6 linked regions of the Homo sapiens genome follow. The protein of the gene in region 1 interacts with the protein of each later gene in a pairwise test. Each region holds a gene or a part of one and is shown in the gene's direction. Other genes may lie near its edges.

Region 1 (3,500 bases):
TTTGAGTCAGCGCAACAGTGCAGAAACGGTGCCCACGGAGAGGAGTACAACCCTACATTTTCTCTGCAGGTGTTGAGTCACGGCTATAGCTACCCGTGCATACCAATCCGACTCAGGTCTGTGAGACTATAGAATTCTGCATGCTGCCAGCTATTGGAGGTCAGCGCGGCAATCATCTGTCCCAGGGTTTATCTGCCCAGAAGGGGTGGGGAGTGGCAGCCATGTGCCCCCGAAGAGAGGGACAGGTTGGGGTGTTCTCCATGGGAAGGAGGCTTGGGCACAGGGTTATCATTTGCCTTGGGACATATATTCCCTCTGTCGATTATTTATGGTAACGGAGAGACCTGCTCTCTTGGCTAATTGAAACCCGTAGATAATCCCCAGGCCTTATGTTAGCTGATGGGTGAAACTTCTTTCTCTACTCAGCCCTGGTCTAAGTACTGACCTGAATTGAATTTCACGCTTTCTGATAGGAGGTGCCACTGGGTGGTACGATGACCAGCAGGAAAGAGCTAGAAACACAGGGACTGAATAGTCCCCGAGGAGGGGGATGCCTCTGTGAATTCGAGACAGCTGTTCCCTCTCCTCCATCACCAGCACCAGCCCAGTGCTACAGTGTTTTACGGTTTTTTTCAGGGTGCCCCTCCCGTGCACATTCTTGTTAGATGCCTGCAGCAGCCCTGGTGGAGGGGGTAACAGCCAGCTTGCTGGTGTTCTTGCCTGCCTTGATTACGTAGAAGGGTGCCCTGAGTAGATCTTCTCTCTGACATTCTCTATGAGTTTGCTAGGATGGTTCTAACAAATTACCACACACTGTGTGGCTTCAACAACAGAAATTTATTCTGTCACAGTTCTGGAGGCTAGGATCCAAAACCAAGGTGTTGGCAGGGCCATGCTCCCTCTGCAGCCACAGGGAGAATCCTTCCTTGCCTCTTACTAGCTTCCGGTGGTGGCCAGCACTCTTTGGCATTTTCTGGCTTATGACTGCAGCGCTCTGTCTCTGCGTCTGTCTTCACACAGTGTTCCTCCCTCTGAGTGTCTCTTCTGTCTCTTAATCTTTTCCTATGTCTCTTTATAAGGACACCAGTCATGGGATGTAGGTCTACCCTAATCCAGTGTTGCCTCATTTTAACTCGATGACATCTACAAAGTCCCTATTTTCAAAGAAGATCATATCCACAGGTACCAACGGGACTTGAAGGTATCTTTTGGGGGAGCATAGTTCAAGCTCCAGCACCTTTTTAGACTGTCAGTATTGGGTTGTGGCAAGCGGATCTTGGGAAGGAGATGAATGTGCTTTTAGGGATTACTCTCAGAACTGACCTCTGCAAGGGAAGGGGCAAAGCAGCACTGGGCAGAGGGAGAAGCTGGGCTCCAATACCGCTCTCAGCCAAAGCCCCTGCCCATGCCGTGGTGAGTGCTGGAGCTGAGCTGGCCCTTCAGAGCTGACCAACTTGGGTTGAGAGGACTGGGATTTATATTTCCGCATCGGCCAGTCCTTGATGGGGGCTGCCCAGGCAAGGGGCATGGCCTCGTACGGGACAGTTGCTGAGGGCGGTTCCTGGGGAGAGCTCACAGCTGATAGCCTGCAGCTGAGGCAGTCAGTTCTTCAGCACTGACGGGGAATCTGGGGGTGCAGCCCAGCATTTGCTGTTTACTGAAAGAGACAGGGTCAGAGTCCAGGGCTTTTCATCTGAGTCCATACCATATGGACCGTAGACAACGTGGGCATCTTTTCCATGCGCATTTTGGATATGAGTGGTCATCATTTCCATGTGTTGGTATCAAGTCCTCTCATCTCGTTACCTTGAAATATACAAAGTATGGCCAGGCGTGGTGGCTCACGCGTGTAATCCCAGCACTTTGGGAGGCCGAGGGAGGCAGATCACCTGAGGTCAGGAGTTTGAGACCAGCCTGGCCAACATGGTGAAACCCTGTCTCTACTAAAAATACAAAAAAATTAGCCAAGTGTGTGTTCCTGTAATCCCAGCTACTCGGGAGGCTGAGGCAGGAGAGTCGCTTGAACCAAGGAGGTGGAGGTTGCAGTGAGCCGAGATTGTGCCACTGCACTCCAGCCTGGGTAACAAGAGCAAAAACTCCATAACAACAGCAGCAGCAACAACAACAACAACAACAACAAAGAAATATACAAATTATTGCTGCTAAATATAGTCCCCGTAGCAAACATTAGCATTTAGTCCTTCTATCTATGTATGTTTGTACCCATGAACCAGCTTCTCTTCAGCCTGCCCTACCTTGCTGCTCGACTGTGGTCTCTCTCCCTGCAATGAGGGAGCAGCCGGCGTGGCATCTCATTAGCAGATTCTATGTGCCACACGCTGGGGGATTTTCTGGCCTCACATTTCTCTTAGGTTAGAATCATCAGGGCTCTGTTGTGTTTCTCAGTACTTACAAGATTGAAAGCTCACTTTATATGTATGCTCTATGGGTTTTTTCCTGAGAACTCTGGGGCAACTGAGTGTTGGGCCAAGTTGTGGGCCAGCATGCCTACTTCAGAGACGGTGGCACTTTCCTGGGAAGAGACCCCCCCTCCCCCATCACTCGTGAGTGGTGGGAAAAGTTGTTGAAGGAGTTGTGGGAATTTGGATTTTTGATGAGTAGAGTAACAGTTTGGGACATTCTCATGGACAAAAAAAACTACTCAGGGTAGAGCCATCTGTTAACATCCTCTTAGCACTCTTACGGTGGCCACTGTGCCCTAGCTATGCAACTTCTAATCACTGGGTTCTTTTTGGTTTTTAATCATCTTTGTGTTTTCAAGATGCATTTGGTTAAGTTTTGGAATTGGTAATACAGACACATGGTCTGAAATTCAAAGGTTCTGAGAGGGTTTGCAGTGAGAGGTAACTGCTTCTTATCTGGGCTCTTCAGTTCCTGGATCTTCTCGTGAGAGGTCACTCCTCCTTCTAGTCCTTGTGTATCCCTCCAGAGATACCCTATATGCATAGAGACCCACATACATATTTGTAAATGCGTAGTTAGGGGCAGATTTTTCTTCTTTATTGATACATAATATTTTACATATTTATGGGGTACATGTGAGTGTTCCATGCATGGAGTGTGTAATGATCAAGCCAGAGTATCGGCGTGTCCATCACCTAAGTATTCATTTCCACGGGTTGGTATTATATCAAGTCCTCTGTTCTAGTTACCTTGAAATATACAAAGTATTGCTACTAAGTATAGTCACCCTAACAGACATTAGAATTTAGTTCTTCTATCTATGTATGTTTGTACCCATGAACCAGCTTCTCTTCATCCATCCCTCCCACCCACCAGGGCAGATGTATTTTTAAACTGTACATGCTGTTCATTATCTTGCTTTTTCACTTAGCAATATGTCTTGAGCATTCTTCCCCATGACTACTACAGAATTGCCTCACTCTTTATGTTAATTAGTTATTGCATAGTAGTCATTGTGTGGAAGTATCATGTTGACTTAACCATCCCTTGTTGATGGACATTTAGGGAGTACATAA
Region 2 (3,500 bases), on another chromosome or scaffold:
CTTCTTTATGTAATGAAATCCGTTCATTCCCACAAGAGCAGCAAAAATTTAGCCTGAAAAAAATTTAGAATTGATAGTAAAAATTGTTTAAGGTTCTAATGTCCCCATTTCTCCAGGGCAAATTTGTGGCCTTAAAACAAAGGTGCAGCTTTACTTACATTTGTGCTAGAAATAAGCAACTAAAACCAATTGGACCGTATTTCAATGACTAGGTTATCTTCAGTGGGTCAGCTACCTTTGTTAGGCTTTTAACAACTCCTTGGCATATCTGATAATGCATTTACCTTTGAAACATCCTTCTTTGATTTCATATGAACATTCTTACAATGTTTATAATAGTGAGGAAGAAAAGTGCTTTTCCTTTAAACAATTATTGCTAAAATGTCCTAATTTGAGTTTCGCAACCTATACGTTATAAAATAAGGAAAGTTTTTAATTAAAAAATAATTTAGGCCTGGCATGGTGGCTCATGCCTGGAATCCCAGTACTTTGGGAGGCCACTGCAGCGGGATCGCTTGAGTCCAGGAGTTCAAGACCAACCTAAACAACCCCAGTAGCAAGACCCCATCTTTATATTTTAAATAATAATAATATACATAGTGTACTTAATTTTATTTGTGTGTATGAGGGTTTTTTTGTTTGTTTTTGTACTTTCTTTAAAAAGAACCTAAAGCATGATGTTTTGACTCTAGTAAATCAGGAGGTTTTTTGTTTTTTTGTTTTGTTTTGTTTTTAAGATGGAGTCTTGCTCTGTCACCCAGGCTGGAGTGCAGTGGCACAATCTCGGCTCACTGCAACCTCTGCCTCCCGGGTTGGAGTGATTCTCCTGCCTCAGCCTCCCGAGTAATTGGGATTACAGGGGCCCACGACTACGTCCGACTAATTTTTGTGTTTTTAGTAGAGGTGGGGTTTTGCTACGTTGGTCAGACTGGTCTAGAACTCCTGACTTCAGGTGATCCATCCACCATGGCCTCCCAAAGTGCTGGGATTATAGGCGTGAGCCACCGTGCCCGGCATATCAGGAGCTATTAACTTGGTGCCTATCATGCTGTTATGGATGCAAAAGTGATTTAAAATAAGCAAGATTTCAGTTGAATGCCAGACTGAATTTGAATTGATTTGATAGGCAGTAGTGAACCATTATTGGTTTCCTGAGAGAAGTGACATTTCCTAGAGAAAACAACAACTTACATTTGTGTAGCACTTCACTATTAATTAATGGAAGAACCCCAGTTAGAGCCCAGATCTTCTAAGTAGTAATACCTATTCATCAGACTTTCACTGTTTTGCCGTATTACAAGCAGCTTTTTTTAAAAAAAGGTAACTGACAATGGTGTGCATTGGAGAGAAATTAGAAACAGGCCGGTTCCAAGCTTTTAAAATAACTTAGCTTGAGATAAGGACTTGGACCAGGGAACTAGCATTGGGAGTGGAGTGGCAGAGGTAAGTCTTAGATTTCAAACAGTAAGTCTAGATGGTGACAAAATTATTCTTTAACTTGTTGGATGGATGATTGATATTTTTTCACCTTTGGGACTTTTCTGTTCCTTTTATGGCGGTATTAATGAAAAAAAATTGTTTCAAAAGTATGACTTTAAAATTATGATCCTTTATAGCTAATATTTGGGATATAAAAACTTTTAAATATGTTTTCAGGCTATTTGCGCCTAGGAGCCATGGCTAGAGATAAGGGAAACTTTTATGAGGCTTCAGATTGGTTTAAGGAAGCTCTTCAGATTAATCAGGTTGGTAATATTAACTCTTAGGTTTGAGAAATAATTATTTTCACTTTTCCTTCCCCATAAATCAGTTTTTCCTTTTAATGGCTACATCTTCCTGGTTTTGTCATTTTTTGTTTTGTTTTCATTTACTTGTTAGATACTAAAAATGTACTAGGTTGCATTATTAATCATGTTATAAATAGGGACCATGTTTTTTTATGTAAATCTTTCCTATTGTCTTCCTTTTTCCTTCTTCCCTTCCCCCATCCCATCCTTTCACTCCACTTCAACAAATGTGACCTGACTCCTGTGTTTTTTACTCTCACTAGTTTACTTCACTTTCAGTTTAGTTAGTACCATATGAGAGAACTTTATAGCATAGTATCTTAGGATTTTGTATGGAACCATAGCTATGGTCATCTAAACGTTTTGAGGGCCCACAAAAAGAAATAGATTTCACATCATAGCCTAGTACACACAAATGTATATATAGACAAACAACTGAAATGAAAGTTTCACAAATCATTATTTGCTTTTGCCAATGGGCGATACACTGATATTTTTACTTTATTCCATTCTGTTGCATTTACTATGCAGATAACTAAAGACTAACTAAATGGATTTTACAACTTACTAATGGGTATCAACTCAGTTTGAAAACCACTCATGTGGGGGTCTACAACAAGAAGTGTATATTTTCAAACAATTTTTTAATGATTTAACAATTTTTGTAAATCATTTTCAGGCTTCTGCAGCTGTAGATTCTCACTGTGAATCCCATGCTTGCTCATGCCTAAGGGTATTTGCAATACCAAATATAGTTTAGTATTTTTGCCTGTTAGTGATGGTTCCACGTTTGTAACGTTTTGGTTGAGATTTTAAATGGTGGACAAGTACTGTGGATGTGAATGTGGGGAACTAATTTTAATCATATGTAATTGGTCACAAGGCCTAATTTGCAGTAACTATTGCTGTTTTATTTAACAGTGCCTTGTTGCTTTGTATGCATTTATGTCTGGATGTAAAGATTGTGTGTCTATCCAACAGGGAGCCACAGTATTTAAATTGACCAACCTAATGTTACAACTACTTTGAGGTGGCCAAATGTAAACTGAAAGCATTAATTAAAGTGGTGCAATTTTGTATAACTTAGCTTTAGCATTAGTAGTTCGATAAATTTGGATTGCCATGCAAAAAAAAAAAGAAAGAAAGAAAAGAAAGAAAACCACTGTTGTAATATAGTTTGTAAACCTCTTCAGTAATCAGCTATTGTGGGAAGATGATTGATCTCTGTCAAACTAAACTGCAGATTTTCCTTCTTCATGTATGTATGTTTCAGGATCATCCAGATGCTTGGTCTTTGATTGGCAATCTTCATTTGGCAAAACAAGAATGGGGTCCTGGGCAGAAGAAGTTTGAGAGGATATTAAAACAGCCATCCACACAGAGTGATACCTATTCTATGCTAGCCCTTGGCAACGTGTGGCTCCAAACTTTACATCAGCCCACCCGAGATCGAGAAAAGGTAATCTCTTTTTGTCCTTTTAAACAAAACTGATACTCTACATTCTCGTTTGAATCTTTTTTAAGAGCACTTGTTTCTATAGGAAAAGCGTCATCAAGATCGTGCTCTGGCCATCTACAAACAAGTACTCAGAAATGATGCAAAGAATCTGTATGCTGCCAATGGCATAGGTGATTATAAGACTTGAGTACCCATAACAATTTGTTTCAAATGAATACTTTCAGAGGAATGTTTGTAAATCAGAATTTTTCTTA
Region 3 (3,500 bases), on another chromosome or scaffold:
GGGTGCTGGGGTGCTCAGCCTTGCCCTGTGAGGAGCAGCCTTGGGCGTTGCAGCTCCCACAGATGGTGTACATGTTCCCAAAGGGCTGTGGAGCAGCTCTGCCCCTTGTTGAGACTCACTGGACTAGAGCCTCCACCCCAGTTATCAGTCCTTCAGTCCTTCTTAGGGTCCCCAAGCCAGTGTGTGGCTACATTCAAGTTTGGGGCAGTGGTGCCCCTATATCAGCTGAGAGGCTGGAACTCTTTAATCGGCATTTCTGAACATTGAGCCTCCCAACCAGGGCAGGGTGGGTGCTGGACTGGGAGATTGGGGAGGGCAGGAGCAGTTGCCTGGAGGTGAGGGATCCTGAGGGGCTCCACCTGATGCTCACCCCATGCCTCTGCAGGTATGACTCTTATGAGTCCTGCGACTCGAGGGCCGTCCTGAGTGAGCGCGACCTGTACCGGTCAGGCTATGACTACAGCGAGCTTGACCCTGAGATGGAAATGGCCTATGAGGGCCAATACGATGCCTACCGCGACCAGTTCCGCATGCGTGGCAACGACACCTTCGGTCCCAGGGCACAGGGCTGGGCCCGGGATGCCCGGAGCGGCCGGCCAATGGCCTCAGGCTATGGGCGCATGTGGGAAGACCCCATGGGGGCCCGGGGCCAGTGCATGTCTGGTGCCTCTCGGCTGCCCTCCCTCTTCTCCCAGAACATCATCCCCGAGTACGGCATGTTCCAGGGCATGCGAGGTGGGGGCGCCTTCCCGGGCGGCTCCCGCTTTGGTTTCGGGTTTGGCAATGGCATGAAGCAGATGAGGCGGACCTGGAAGACCTGGACCACAGCCGACTTCCGAGTGAGTGGAGGCAGCCTTCCCCTCTGGGAAGCTTAGTTCCCACTGGGGCGGAGCTAAGGGCCGGGTGCCATGCACCCTGACACGGCTTCCCCCCCTTATGACCCAGACCAAGAAGAAGAAGAGAAAGCAGGGCGGCAGTCCTGATGAGCCAGATAGCAAAGCCACCCGCACGGACTGCTCGGACAACAGCGACTCAGACAATGGTGAGCCCACTAGGTGGTACTGGGCGGCTGCCCCCTGCCTCTGGGAACTCCTGGGTTGAGCTTACCTCCTTTTCCCTTTCAGATGAGGGCACCGAGGGGGAAGCCACAGAGGGCCTTGAAGGCACCGAGGCTGTGGAGAAGGGCTCCAGAGTGGTAAGTGGCTCTGGCTGGGCATTTTCTGTCTGCAGGCAGGGCGAGCTGGCCTAAAGAGTGGTGCTCTCCCTGGGGGCCAGAGGCAATGCTGTGTCAGCTCTGCGTGCATGGTGACCAGCATGGGGAGGCAGTGTGGTCTGGCAGAAAGCACAGGCTGCCTAGCTGGAGGCACAGTTTCCTTGTTGGAAAATGGGATGAGCCCCTGTGCACCAGGTAGTGGGAGGATGTGAGGTTTCTGGCACATAGCCGGGCCTTGTCATTTAAAGCCATTGTAAATAACTGGGCTACTCTGGGCCACCCTGCCTATAGGATAGCCCTGCTCTGTCTATGGAGCAAGCAGCTGTTTTACTATATACCGTTGCTCTAATAAACTTGGTTTCTTTTAAAAAAAAAAAAAAAGGCACCTGTTTTAAAGTTGGAATTTGAAATTGTTAGGACGGAGAGGATGAGGAGGGAAAAGAGGATGGGAGAGAAGAAGGCAAAGAGGATCCAGAGAAGGGTGAGTTTTCCTGGGGTGCCTGGTGCTAGGGCGGCTCTTCCAGGGGCTCACAGTGGGAGGGACCCAGCTGAGGGCAGGGTTGCGGCAGACATGCGGCCAGTTGGGGACCTCCCTTGTGGGCCCGAGTGTGTGCTGGCAGGGGGCTTTCTTTTCGCCGCCTCCACCCCCTTCCCACTCTTCCTCCTCCTTCCCAGGCGGAGGCTGTGGATGGTGGTGACCCCTGCCTAGCACACTGGTTTTGCCTTCAGATGGGGGCAGCTAGTAAAAGTGTGGGGAACCCCAGGCACGCCCCCTGCCCTCGGTCCCTCAGTAACGCGCAGTTCCAAGTCCTCAGTGGCTGGTGTCCGATCTGGGACCCTCGGTGCAGTTTTTACGGCTCTGGTGTGCGTATCCTCTCCCTTAGCACCTCTCCAGCCCCTGTTGGGATTCCGTGTCCCCCCACCTGAGTGATGAGCGCCAGCAGGTACCTAACAGCAAATCCAGCGTCAGCCCACTGTTGCCGCGGTGCCCGGTTGGGGGTGGGCAGGGCCATGTGAGCAGCCTCCCTGCATCCCACCACCTGGCCCCTCTGAACATGTGCCAGTGTCCCCACAAAGATACCCCCTCTTTGCTTTCCAGCCTCCTCCTGGCCCACTGCACAGAGAGCATGGGTGTCCTGGAGAGTGGAGGGGTCATCGCCTGGCCCCCACTCCTTGGGGCCTAGGCCAAACCCACTCCCTGCACAGCCCAGGATACCCAGCCCTGCTCATGGCCAGAGGCCTTGCTTGGACAGCTATTCTCGATGGACCCTCTGGAGTGGACAGTGGGTGATTCAGCCAGAGGCCGCAGGGCCTGCCCTGTCCTGGCAGAGCCAAATTGGTGACAGTGCCCATCTGCTCCCACAGGGGCCCTAACCACCCAGGATGAAAATGGCCAGACCAAGCGCAAGTTGCAGGCAGGCAAGAAGAGTCAGGACAAGCAGAAAAAGCGGCAGCGAGACCGCATGGTGGAAAGGTAACCAGCTTCCCTCCACCCCTCTGCCTCTGCCTCGCTGTGGGGCTGCCGCCAGGAGAGCAGGGCCATAGCTCTGCCAGCTCGCCGCCCTCTGGCCTCCCTTGGGAGCCGCCACCTGCTCGGCCGTGCATGGACCCTGCTTCCCGCCAGGCCCAGCTCCCAAGGCCTGACTCATCCCCTGCCCCTCTGCGGCCGCCTGGCGACCGCTGGCGTCTGTGGGCCGAGACCTGACACCGCTCGGCACCGTTGCTCAGAAGCTCTGGCGCTAGGTCACTCGGCGCACGAACCCCAAGGTGCACTGGGGGCCTGATGCCCCTGAGGGAGGGGGCCAGCTCATCAGAGACTCAAGGTCCAAGGCGCCTGTGCCGCCCCAGCTAGCTGCCAAGAGGCCACCGCCGTGCCCAGGAGAGATGGCAGCACCTGTGGGCTGTGGCAGCCTCGGGCCTGCCTTCTGCCCTGCCCGCCGGCCCTGTCAGGCCGGGCCTGTCTGCGGCTGAGCCCTTCACGCCCCTTGGTCGGGTCTGTCTGCCCTCAGGGCTCCCGCACTGGCGCTTGCCTCCTCCGCCTCAGACTCTTGCTCTTGCTGGACCTTCCTCAGCCTCGCCGGCGCCCGGCCCCTGGGCTCTCCAGACAAAGCTGACCCCGTGGCCCAGATAAGGACGTCCGGCAGAGGTAGGGACCCGCCCCGAGGTCTCGGTGGCGGCTGGCCTCCTCCGCCCCTTGCCACGGCGGCCTGCTCCGGCCCAGGCCCCAGACCCCGGGCTTCTACTGTGGACACCAGGCCCAGACAGAGCACCTCGCCCAGGTGACTCC
Region 4 (3,500 bases), on another chromosome or scaffold:
ACAAAAAAATGCTTGAGCATTGGGTTACCTGATCTTTTATCTCTTAACTGTGTGTAATATGTTTCTGCCAAAGTATGTATTTTTCCCATGAGTAAGCTGTTTTATTTAATAACATCCTCAGTTTGGTCTGAATGTGCTGAGTTGTTTATTTTCTCCATGCATTTGCTGCATGTGACCTAGTTTGAGCCGTCTCTTTGTGTATTGCTTCTCATGTGATATTAACCCACTCAAAGATGCCATGGGGTTATGTTGCAGATCTCAGCTCTTTTTTTGTTGGATTAAAGATATTTGTAGGCTAGACGCGGTGGCTCATGCCTGTAATTCCAGCACTTTCGGAGACCGACGTAGGCGGATCACCTGAGGTTGGGAGTTAGAGACCAGCATTGCCAACATGGTGAAACCCTGTCTTTACTAAAAGTACCAAAATTTGCCGGGCATGGTGGCGTACGCCTGTAGTCCCAGCTACTCAGGAGGCTGAGGCATGAGAGTCACTTGAACCTGGGAGGTGGAGGTTGCAGTGAGCTGAGATTGTACCATTGCACTCCAGCCTGGGTGACACAGTGAGACTCTGTCTCAAAAAAAAAAAAAAAAAAGATATTTGGAGATACTTGTATAAAATGTCATTTCTAAAATATGACCCCCAAATTCAGTCTCCTATTGATAGAACCAAAGCCATTTAAGCAGTCAGTAGAAAATTTTGAAAACCTGAAACGTGATAATGCACATTTCTTGACTTTTCTTTCCTTTCCTTTCTCAGGTACAAGAATATTCCACAGATGTCCTTTGATGATACAGAAAGGGAGCCAGATCAGACCTTTAGTCTGAACCGGGATCTTACAGGAGAATTAGAGTATGCTACAAAGTAAGCACTGGGCCTGTCTTCCATTCTCTATGGCTTCTTATAGGGCTTGCCATTTATTTTTGGCCAGTCTCCTGCTCTCTTAGCATTGGAAATGAGTTAAAACAGTGGAGGAGACTTGATCTTTGGCTTGGTCAGTTTTTGGCAGAGATTCAGTGCAAGCCACAGACTTGTTAACTTGCAAGCAATTGGCAGATCTGAATGAACTCCTAGGGTGGTTTTAGGAAAGATGTGTCTCCCATTAGTTTAGGTTAACACTAAATGTGCTTTAGAATCCCTGCTGGGTTATGCAGCATTTCTCATTCCTGTTCCTTGAGGGCAGGAGCAGTGTTTATCCCTACTGCCTTGGACAGGATCTGGCAGGTGCTCAGTAAATGGTCATTGAATTAATTGCCTGTCCAAAGGAGAAGGAAGAACTCAGGAGCTCTGACTTTGCCTGGCTTTTACAAGCTGGAGCTGAATTGTTGTTTCACATGGTGGTGAGATACTCATTGAACTATAATTCATACCTTCTTTCCCTATTCCTGTCATCCTCTAGAATTTCTCGTTTTTCAAATGTCTATCATCTCTCAATTCATATTTCAAAAAACTTCGGAGCAGATACGACAAAGGTCTTTTATATTGGCCTGAGAGGAGAGTGGACTGAGGTAAGATGGGGTTGGAAAGGTTTTCCCCTCATGTCTACATATCTGCACACTGTGGTGATGGGAGCTTCCAGGGAAGGGAAAAGAGCAAGTGTCATAATTACTCCCAGTTTATTATTTTTCTTGGTTTTATCAGTATAAACTTTTCGTCTCATTTGAGAAACTACAGGTATTTTTAAGGGGGTTGAAACTGTTATTTTTATATAAATAATATATATAATATATATATATATATCTCAGCTCACTGCGACCTCCGCCTCCCAGGTTCAAGTGATTCTCCTGCCTCAGCCCCCCAAGTAGCTGGGATTACAGGTGCCCACTCCCACGCCTGGCTAATTTTTTTGTATTTTTAGTAGAGACAGGGTTTCACCATGTTGGCCAGGCTGGTCTCGAACTCCTGACCTCAGGTGATCTGCCCATCTCAGCCTCCCAAAATGTTGGGATTACAGGTGTGAGCCACCTTGCCCAGCCTGAAATTGTCATTTATATTAATTCACAGTTTTCTACTTTCAAATGCTTTCATTGAGTATTTTTGATAATCTTTTCTATTCATGAACCAGGGATAAGATAATACCATAGACAAGTTCCTATTCTCATGGTACCCCCATTATAGTAGGGAGACTGAATCTTCAAAGTTACAGGGTGAATCAATGATAATGATCTTTGCAGCTTTCTGGAGTTAAAAAGTATCAAAATTGGGAGATATTAGATGATGACATCTAAGTATTAAAATAAGGAGATATTAAATGATGACTCCTAGAAATGAACCTGAATAAGGACTACCGCAATGTGTGTGGTGTGGGAAAGGACAGTTCTTTTAATGGCTGGCTGACCCAGCCTCAATTTTCTTGCAGCTTCGCCGACACGAGGTGACCATCTGCAATTACGAAGCATCTGCCAACCCAGCAGACCATAGGGTCCATCAGGTTACCCCACAGACACACTTTATTTCCTAAGGGCTGGCCAAGGCTCCCATAGAGGCGCTGTGTCAGTGAAGATGTACGACTACCTGTTGGGAAGGACAAAGGGATGAGGCTCCAGAGAGAGTTGGCTGCCACAGCCTCTGCCAAGCTTTGTCTTTGGGGCTTGCTGCAGAAACCTGGCCTACGGAAGATACGACACCACTGGGAGGGTTGTGTAGGTGCCAGGGGACCATCGTGGTTCTCTAGGGCGCTGTGGAAATTGGGTCTTGGGCTGGGTGGCATCTGGCAGTCATGGGTAACACTTGCTTTTCCAGTTAATGTGGCCATGTGATTCCAAGTGTCATGTTGCTTTGTGGCAAGATTGTTGTGTGACTTGTTTTTTTGTTTTTGTTTTTGTTTTTTTAAAGGAAACTATTTGTGGGCTATAGGAAACTTTCTGATGCCTCCGGATTGTGTTAGTAGTAGCCATCAGGAGGGTCTCCAACTAAAACACTTGTTCCTGCTTGCTCCTTTCCCCTCTCATTGTTCAGCATTCTTGTCAAGTTGCCCAGCTTGGAGTTGTCTGTCACGCACATGTGTCCTGTGGTTATAGCTAGAAGGACAGGAGTCTCCTGCTGATGCGTGATAGCTTAAGCTTGGGGAGAAGGTCTTTTCCACTGCCTAGCTAAGCAGTCTGGGGAGAGCATGGGGATCATTTCTATGTGTGTGGGTAATCTGGTCAGTAAGATTGAGACTTAGTTAAGATTCCCCTTGGAAATTCCTTAATGTTTATTAGCTTCTAACTAGTGTTGTAAGTCCGATGCCAGAATTTGGAGATTTGAGTTCTTCTTTTCATGGCTTTTATTCACTGTGACTAATAAGCTTCCTAATAAATCCTTGCCAGACTTAATGTTTGTATTTTCTTTTGAGTTCTTGATAGCCACTGATGCAACTTTCATTTCATGGGGAACTGTACTGAACTTTGAAATTTTTTGTTGTTGTTTTGGACTAGGTAGATTATAGGAAGTGCCACAATTAAATCAAGACTGGAGCCGGGCGCGGTGGCTCACGCCTGTAATCCCAGCACTTTGGGAG
Region 5 (3,500 bases), on another chromosome or scaffold:
GACATTTTGTTTTCCATATTTTAAAAAGTATATAAATTTTTTAAAATGTCATCTAGTTTGTGCATTTACCCTGTCATATTTGCACGGCAGTAAAACCTCCTGCTGGTGTATTTCTCTAAGCATATCCCCATTGTTACGTGACAAATGACTTTATATATGGAGAATAGAACAGAAGGTCTCTAGATTAAAAGACACTGAGCATAGTTGAGGACAAGAGGGACTAAATAAAAATACACTAAATACGGCCAGGCACAATGGCTTACGCCTGTAATCACAGCACTCTGGGAGGCTGAGGTGAGGAGTTTGAGCCTGGGAGTTTGAGGCTACAGTGAGCTATGATCATGCCACTGCACTCCAGCCTGGACAACGTAGCGAGACTTTGTCTCTACAAAAACTTTAAAAAGTACTAAATATCATGAAATACCTCTCCAAGCCTTTACCCCTACTTGGCTCCTAGGATACTGACAGCCTTGCTTACGTTATACTCTCTAGAGTGGTATAATATGGGGAATATGATTAACTCAAGAAAAAAAAAAAAGATACAGACTTTAGACCTCCAATTAAACAGCCCAATCAGATCATCCTGTAGTGAGGCTCAGAGTTGGCAAGCTTCATACATACACGGTTTCTAGTCATTGTAGAGATCCACTCTGAAGGGTGAGCAGCAGTTAAAGATGATAGACATCTGACCCTCTATATAGACCTAAATAAATAGGAAAAAGCAACTTGAGGCCGGGCATGGTGGCTCAGGCCTGTAATCCCAATACTTTGGAAGGCCGAGGCTGGATGATCACTTGAGGTCAGGAATTTGAGACCAGCCTGGCCAACATGATGAAACCCCATCCCTACTGAAAATACAAAAATTAGCTGGTTGTGGTAGCGGGCACCTGTAATCCCAGCTATTCAGAAGGTTGAGGCATGAGAATCGCTTGAACCTGGGAGGTAGAGGTTGCAGTGAGCCGAGATCGTGCCACTGCACTCCAGCCTGGGTGACAGAATGACATTCTGTCTCAAAAAGAAAAAAAAAAAGGAAAAGAAAAAGCAACTTGAATGAAATGGAGATAATACAGAGAGATACGAACTTATAAAAATCATTAAGCATATCCTTAAAGAGATAAAAGATAATACTGTAGCCATGAACAAAAACAAGAAGGTGTAAAAAGGTAAACATTCAGAGAACTAGAAACAGCACTTGGAAATAAACACATCATGGCGGGGAAAAGAAAAAAGAAAAACCAAAGAGTTGATAATAGGCCAGGTGTGGTGGCTCATGCCTGTAATCCCAGCACTTGGGAGGCCAAGGCAGTGGATCACCTGAGGTCAGGAGTTCAATAGCAGCCTGACCAACATGGTGAAACCCCATCTCTACTAAAAATACAAAAATCAGCCAGATGTGGTGGCAGACACCTGTAATTCCAGTTACTTGGGAGCCTGAGTCATGAGAATCACTTGAACCCGAGAGGCAGAGGCTGCAGTGAGCCAAGATGTGCGCCATTGCACTCCAGCCTGGGGGACAAGAGTGAGACTCCATCTCAAAAAAAAAAAAAAAAAAAAGAGGAGTTGATCAAGTTGAAATATTTCAGAAACTAGAGCAAGTATAGAAATAGATGTGACTGGGTGCTGTGGCTCACGCCTGTAATCCCAGCACTTTGAGAGGCCAAGGCAGGTGGATCACAAGGTCAGGAGATTGAAACCATCCTGGCTAACATGGTGAAACCCTGTCTGTACTAAAGATACAAAAAATTAGCCGGGTGTGGTGGTGGGCACCTGTAGTCCCAGCTGCTTGGGAGGCTGAGGCAGGAGAATGGCGTGAACCCGGGAGGTGGAGCTTGCAGTAAGCCAAGATCGCACCATTGCACTCTAGCCTGGGCGACACAACAAAACTCTGTCTCAAAAAAAAAAAAAAAAAAGAGATGCAAGAGTGAAAAAAACAAAAACAAAAACATAGAGGATCATCAGTTCAGGACACCCTCTGTCCAAGTAATAGGATTCCCAGAAAGAACAGAAAAATACTGGAGGATAATCATCAAAGAAATAATTTTAAAAAATCTCCCAGAACTGAAGAACGTCAGTTTCCAGATTGAAAAGGCCCATCAAGTGGCTAACTCAATAGATGAAAATAACCCACACCATGGCAAATTGCTGTAAAAACAGAACACTGGGAACAAAGAGAAGATCCTAAAAGCTTTCAGCAAGAATGGGAAAAGGGTCACATACAAAGGATCAGGGATTGGAATGGCATTAGATTTTTAAAGGCTAACACTGAAAATTAAAAGACATGGAGGCTGGGTGCCATGGCACATGCCTCTAATCCCAGCACTCTGGGAGGCCAAGATGGGCAGATCCCTTGAGCTCAGGAGTTTGAGACCAGCCTGGGCAACATAGTGAGACCCCATCTACAAAAAAAAATTTAAAAATTAGCCAGGTGTAGGTACATGCCTGTAGTCCAGCTACTTAGGAGGCTGAGGCAGGAGGGTTGCTTGAGCTCAGGGGATCAAGGCTGTAGTCAACCATGATTGTGCCACCACTGCACTCCAGCCTGGGCTATAGAGTAAGACCCTGTCTCAAAAATAAAATACGACAATGGAACAATGCCTTAACCCCTGAGGAAGAATTATTTTCAACCTGGAATTCTATATCCTGCCAAACTATCAATAGTGTGAGGAAAGATTAATAACTTTTTAAAAATAATTTCAACTTTTATTTTATCTTTTTTTTTTTTTTTTTTTTTTTGTGACGGAGTCTCGCTGTTGCCCAGGCTGGAGTGCAGTGGCGCGATCTCGGCTCACTGCAGGCTCCGCCCCCCAGGTTCACGCCATTCTCCTGCCTCAACCTCCCGAGTAGCTGAGACTACAGGCGCCCGCCACCTCGCCCAGCTAATTTTTTGTATTTTTAGTAGAGACGGGGTTTCACCGTGTTAGCCAGGATGGTCTCTATCTCCTGACCTCGTGATCCACCCGCCTCGGCCTCCCAAAGTGCTGGGATTACAGGCATGAGCCACCACGCTCGGCCCTATTTTATCTTATTTGAGAGAAATCTCATTCTGTCACCCAGGCTGGGTGCAGTGGCACCACCATGGATCACTGCAGCCTTGACCCCCCAGGCTCAAGCAATCCTCTCACCTCAGCCTCCCGAGGAGCTGGGTCTACAGGCACATACCACCACACCTGACTAATTTTTAAATTTTTTGTAGAGACAGTGTCTCACTCTGTTACCTAGGCTGATCTCAAACTCCTAGACTCAAGTGATCCTCCTCTCTTGGCCTCTCCAAGTGCTGGAATTACAGGCAAGAGCCACCATGCCCAGCCCAACTTTTATTTTAGATTCGGAGGGGGGTACCTGCGCAGGTTTGTTACATGGGTATATCACATGATTCTGAGATTTGGGATACTGTTGAACCCATCACCCAGGAAGTGAGCATAGTACCCAACAAATAATTTTTCAATCCTTGCCCCCACCTCTCTCCCTCCTCCAACAGTCCCCAGTGTCTATCATTACCA
Region 6 (3,500 bases), on another chromosome or scaffold:
ACAGTTTTGGTTGTTACAACTGGAAGGGAAGGATGATAGTAAACTGGCGTCTAGTAGAGGTTAGGGATGCTGCTAAACATCCTGCAGTGCACATTGCACAGAGCAGCCTCTCACAACAAATGTTTATCTGGTCCAAAATGTGAGTGATGGCAAGGTTGAGAAACGCTGCTGTAAACTGATCAGTTTTAAACTGCAGTATTACTTTTTTTGTTAATAGCACTACTGCTCTTCATATTTTGCAGGGTACAGTGTGTGTGCCTCTGTGTGTGTGTGTGTGTGTGTGTGTAAGCAAGAGAAAATACTGTTTCGATCAACCAGTTACCAAAGCATGTTTCTACCATTTTGTGTTCTTTTCTGCAGTGACCTTGTAGTTACTCTTTTCCATAGTATCATTCCCTTGTTCTCATCTCCTTTCAATCTTACTTACATATCCCTAATTTGACCATCTTGAGATAATATTTTTCCCATCAGGAACTGGCTTTTATTGCCTGCTGAATCAAATATAAAGAATTCTGGATGGCTTCCAAAGTCTTCCATAATGTGACTCCATCTCCTACATAATATAATTTAGTTATTCTTGTTAGTCAACATTTTTTTTTCCTTTTAGTTAAATTCAGCTGACAGGGAGAAACATTTATTAAAGTGGTGACTATGTGAGGACTATTGAGATAGGTGCCAGGGATCCAAAGACATGTCAACATTTTCCCTCTATCCGATTGATTATTTCCCAATAACTTCTGTAATATTCCTTATTATTACTATTTTTTCCGAGATGGAGTTTCACTCTTGTTGCCCAGGCTGGAGTGCAGTGGTGCGATCTTGGCTCACTGCAACCTCTGCCCCCTGGGTTCAAGAGATTCTCCTGCCTCAGCCTCCTGAGTAGGTGGAATTACAGGCGTCCACCACCATGCCCAGCTAATTTGGTATTTTTAGTAGAGACGGGGTTTCTCCATATTGGTCAGGCTGGTCTTGAACTTCTGACCTCAGGTGATCTGCCTGCCTCAGCCTCCCAAAGTGCTGGGATTACAGGTGTCAGCCACCATGCCCAGCCAGATGTCCTCCTTTCTTACCCTGTTCTTAGCTAAATTCTGTCCTCAAGGCCAGGTTCTCTCTCTCATCACATCATCATGAGCACTGCGTGTGTATGAGGATTTTAAAGCCTTATAGTAATTGTCTGTTGATCCCATTACTGTATTTAAGGAATGATATAGATCACAAGCATTGTAGGATTCACATGAAGAAACAAATTCCAAGAACTGGGACCATAAAGGATGGAAGAGATGGAACTTAAGTTTGTTTCTTCTTGTAGCTGAGACCTCAGATGTGCACCACTACGCCCAGCTAATTTTTAAATTTTTTGTAAAATTTTTTGTCTTTACTTTGTTGCCCACTTTGTTGGCTACCTACCATTTCTCCCTATCTCTGCCCTTTAGGCAACAACAATACTCAACATAAATATCTGTTCTTGAACTCCTGGGCTCAAGCAGTCCTCCCACCTCAGTCTCCCAGAGTGTTGGGATTACAGCTGTGAGGCACCACGCCCAGTCAGTGCACTGCTTTTTGCATGGAGAAAGTCTTGCTGCTACTTTAAAAAGGTCAGTGTGCTTAATTGATCTACATTCTGTCACAAACTTCTTATTTTATCACAAACTGATAACAAACAGTTCCCCAATCAGCACTGGTCATTGGACCATACTTGGAGTTACATTGCTGTAGTGTGAGACTTTCATACTTTTTTTAAAATTGTCACCTGTATTAAGAAATACATTTTACATTTTCATCCAGTGTTATATCATATACACATGTACATAACTGAAACAATTTTACGAAGCAGTACCTAACCTTACTATGTGTGACATAGTCTGATGTTTGCTATTTTTTTAATGCTGATCATGACCTTCTAATGGATTTTAAAAACACTGCCCTCAAGCATTTAGCACAGTGCTAGAGACATAGTAGTTGCTCAGAAAATACCATACATTTTAGCAGTGATTAAATCTTGAGAGGGTTGAGCCTTCTTAATACTTGAGGATTACTTTAAAATGTTATTTCATTGGCCGGGCACGATGGCTCACGCCTGTAATCCCACCACTTTGGGAGGCCGAGGCGGGCGGATCACCTGAGGTCAGGAGTTCGAGACCAGCCTGGCCAACATGGAGAAACCCTGTCTCTACTAAAATACAAAAATTAGTGGGGCATGGTGGCGGGGCGCCTGTAATCTCAGTTACTTGGGAGGCTGAGGCTGCTTGAATCTGGGAAGTGGAGGTTGCAGTGAGCCAAGTTCATGCCACTGCACTCCAGCTTGGGCGACAGAGTGAGACTCCGTCTCCAAAAAAAAAAAAAGTTATTTAATCAATACTTAGTTGTTTGTGGCACCTTATACAGAACGAGTGTAGAGTGGATTATGAGATTTAAGACAGCGAGAAGATACTTATGTTGAGTATTGTTGCTGCCTAAGGGCAGAAATAGAGAGAGATGGTGGGTGACCAACAAAGACAACTTTTGCTTTCCTTTCAATATTGCCAAAGACCTTAGGAGTGGCTGGTGTGAATCCCTGCTTAAAATCAGGACCAGTTTGAATGACTGCAAACCTCATTTTTCACTTTTTACCTTTTAGTCTTCACTTTGTGGTTCCAGTCATCAAATCCCTACTCTTTGTCTTAGAAAGGAGCAGAAGGATGTCAGAGAAAGAACATTTTCTCTTTATTTATTTATTTTTTTTTGAGATGGAGTCTCTGTTGCCCAGGCTGCAGTGCAGTGGCGCGATCTCAGCTCACTGCAAGCTCCACCTCCCAGGTTCGTGCCATTCTCCTGCCTCAGCCTCCTGAGTAGCTGGGACTACAGGTGCCCGCCACCGTGCCCGGCTAATTTTTTGTCTTTTTAGTAGAGACGGGGTTTCACCGTGTTAGCCAGGATGGTCTTGATCTCCTGACCTCGTGATCCGCCCGCCTTGGCCTCCCAAAGTGTTGGGATTACAGGCGTGAGCCACTGTGCACGGCTGCATTTTCTCTTTGTTAACTCATTTTCAACACTTTTGGGTTTCACTTTTGGAGCACTGCTGTTTGACTAAGGCTGAAGTTCTTTGTCAGGTTTACACATCTTAAGAATTTTTATTTTTTGTTGTTAGAAGCATGTTAATTTTTCTTGCATATACTTAGTTATTTTTTTTTCACTTGCAATCCTTCTTGAAGCATAAGGTTTTTTGTTTTGTTTTGTTTTGTTTTGTTTTGTTTTAAAAGACAGAGTCTTGCTCTGTCGCCCAGACTCCGCTCACTGCAATCTTCACCTCCTGGGTTCAAGCGATTTTTCTGCCTCAGCCTCCTGAATAGCTGGGATTACAGGTGTGCGCCACCACGTCCGGCTAATTTTTGTATTTTTAGTAGAGATGAGGTTTCACCATGTTGGCCAGGCTGGTCTCAAACTCCCGACCTCAAGCAGTCCACCTGCCTCAGCCTCCCGAAGTGCTAGGATTACAGGCCTGAGCCACCACGCCCGGCTGC

What was found.
Region 2: the proteins of HUNK (region 1) and CTR9 interact in a two-hybrid assay, tested with the Homo sapiens proteins (one large-scale study listed by BioGRID and IntAct).
Region 3: the proteins of HUNK (region 1) and AKAP8L interact in a two-hybrid assay, tested with the Homo sapiens proteins (one large-scale study listed by BioGRID and IntAct).
Region 4: the proteins of HUNK (region 1) and PITHD1 interact in a two-hybrid assay, tested with the Homo sapiens proteins (one large-scale study listed by BioGRID and IntAct).
Region 5: the proteins of HUNK (region 1) and LURAP1 interact in a two-hybrid assay, tested with the Homo sapiens proteins (one large-scale study listed by BioGRID and IntAct).
Region 6: the proteins of HUNK (region 1) and USP8 interact in a two-hybrid assay, tested with the Homo sapiens proteins (one large-scale study listed by BioGRID and IntAct).

What each region holds. Positions count from the first base shown.
Region 1 is NC_000021.9:31,879,520-31,883,019, forward strand, and holds part of HUNK (hormonally up-regulated neu tumor-associated kinase), read left to right. Parts: intron 1-3,500.
Region 2 is NC_000011.10:10,764,746-10,768,245, forward strand, and holds part of CTR9 (RNA polymerase-associated protein CTR9 homolog), read left to right. Parts: intron 1-1,656; coding exon 1,657-1,745; intron 1,746-3,060; coding exon 3,061-3,246; intron 3,247-3,328; coding exon 3,329-3,416; intron 3,417-3,500. UniProt on the Homo sapiens protein: Component of the PAF1 complex (PAF1C) which has multiple functions during transcription by RNA polymerase II and is implicated in regulation of development and maintenance of embryonic stem cell pluripotency.
Region 3 is NC_000019.10:15,398,489-15,401,988, reverse strand, and holds part of AKAP8L (A-kinase anchor protein 8-like), read left to right. Parts: intron 1-385; coding exon 386-839; intron 840-945; coding exon 946-1,042; intron 1,043-1,124; coding exon 1,125-1,195; intron 1,196-1,630; coding exon 1,631-1,694; intron 1,695-2,578; coding exon 2,579-2,687; intron 2,688-3,222; exon of another isoform or gene 3,223-3,359; intron 3,360-3,500. UniProt on the Homo sapiens protein: Could play a role in constitutive transport element (CTE)-mediated gene expression by association with DHX9. Increases CTE-dependent nuclear unspliced mRNA export.
Region 4 is NC_000001.11:23,784,918-23,788,417, forward strand, and holds the end of PITHD1 (PITH domain-containing protein 1), read left to right. Parts: intron 1-757; coding exon 758-862; intron 863-1,397; coding exon 1,398-1,506; intron 1,507-2,357; coding exon 2,358-2,459; 3' UTR 2,460-3,315; downstream 3,316-3,500. UniProt on the Homo sapiens protein: Promotes megakaryocyte differentiation by up-regulating RUNX1 expression.
Region 5 is NC_000001.11:46,213,334-46,216,833, forward strand, and holds part of LURAP1 (leucine rich adaptor protein 1), read left to right. Parts: intron 1-3,500. UniProt on the Homo sapiens protein: Acts as an activator of the canonical NF-kappa-B pathway and drive the production of pro-inflammatory cytokines. Promotes the antigen (Ag)-presenting and priming function of dendritic cells via the canonical NF-kappa-B pathway.
Region 6 is NC_000015.10:50,430,905-50,434,404, forward strand, and holds part of USP8 (ubiquitin carboxyl-terminal hydrolase 8), read left to right. Parts: intron 1-3,500. UniProt on the Homo sapiens protein: Hydrolase that can remove conjugated ubiquitin from proteins and therefore plays an important regulatory role at the level of protein turnover by preventing degradation. Converts both 'Lys-48' an 'Lys-63'-linked ubiquitin chains.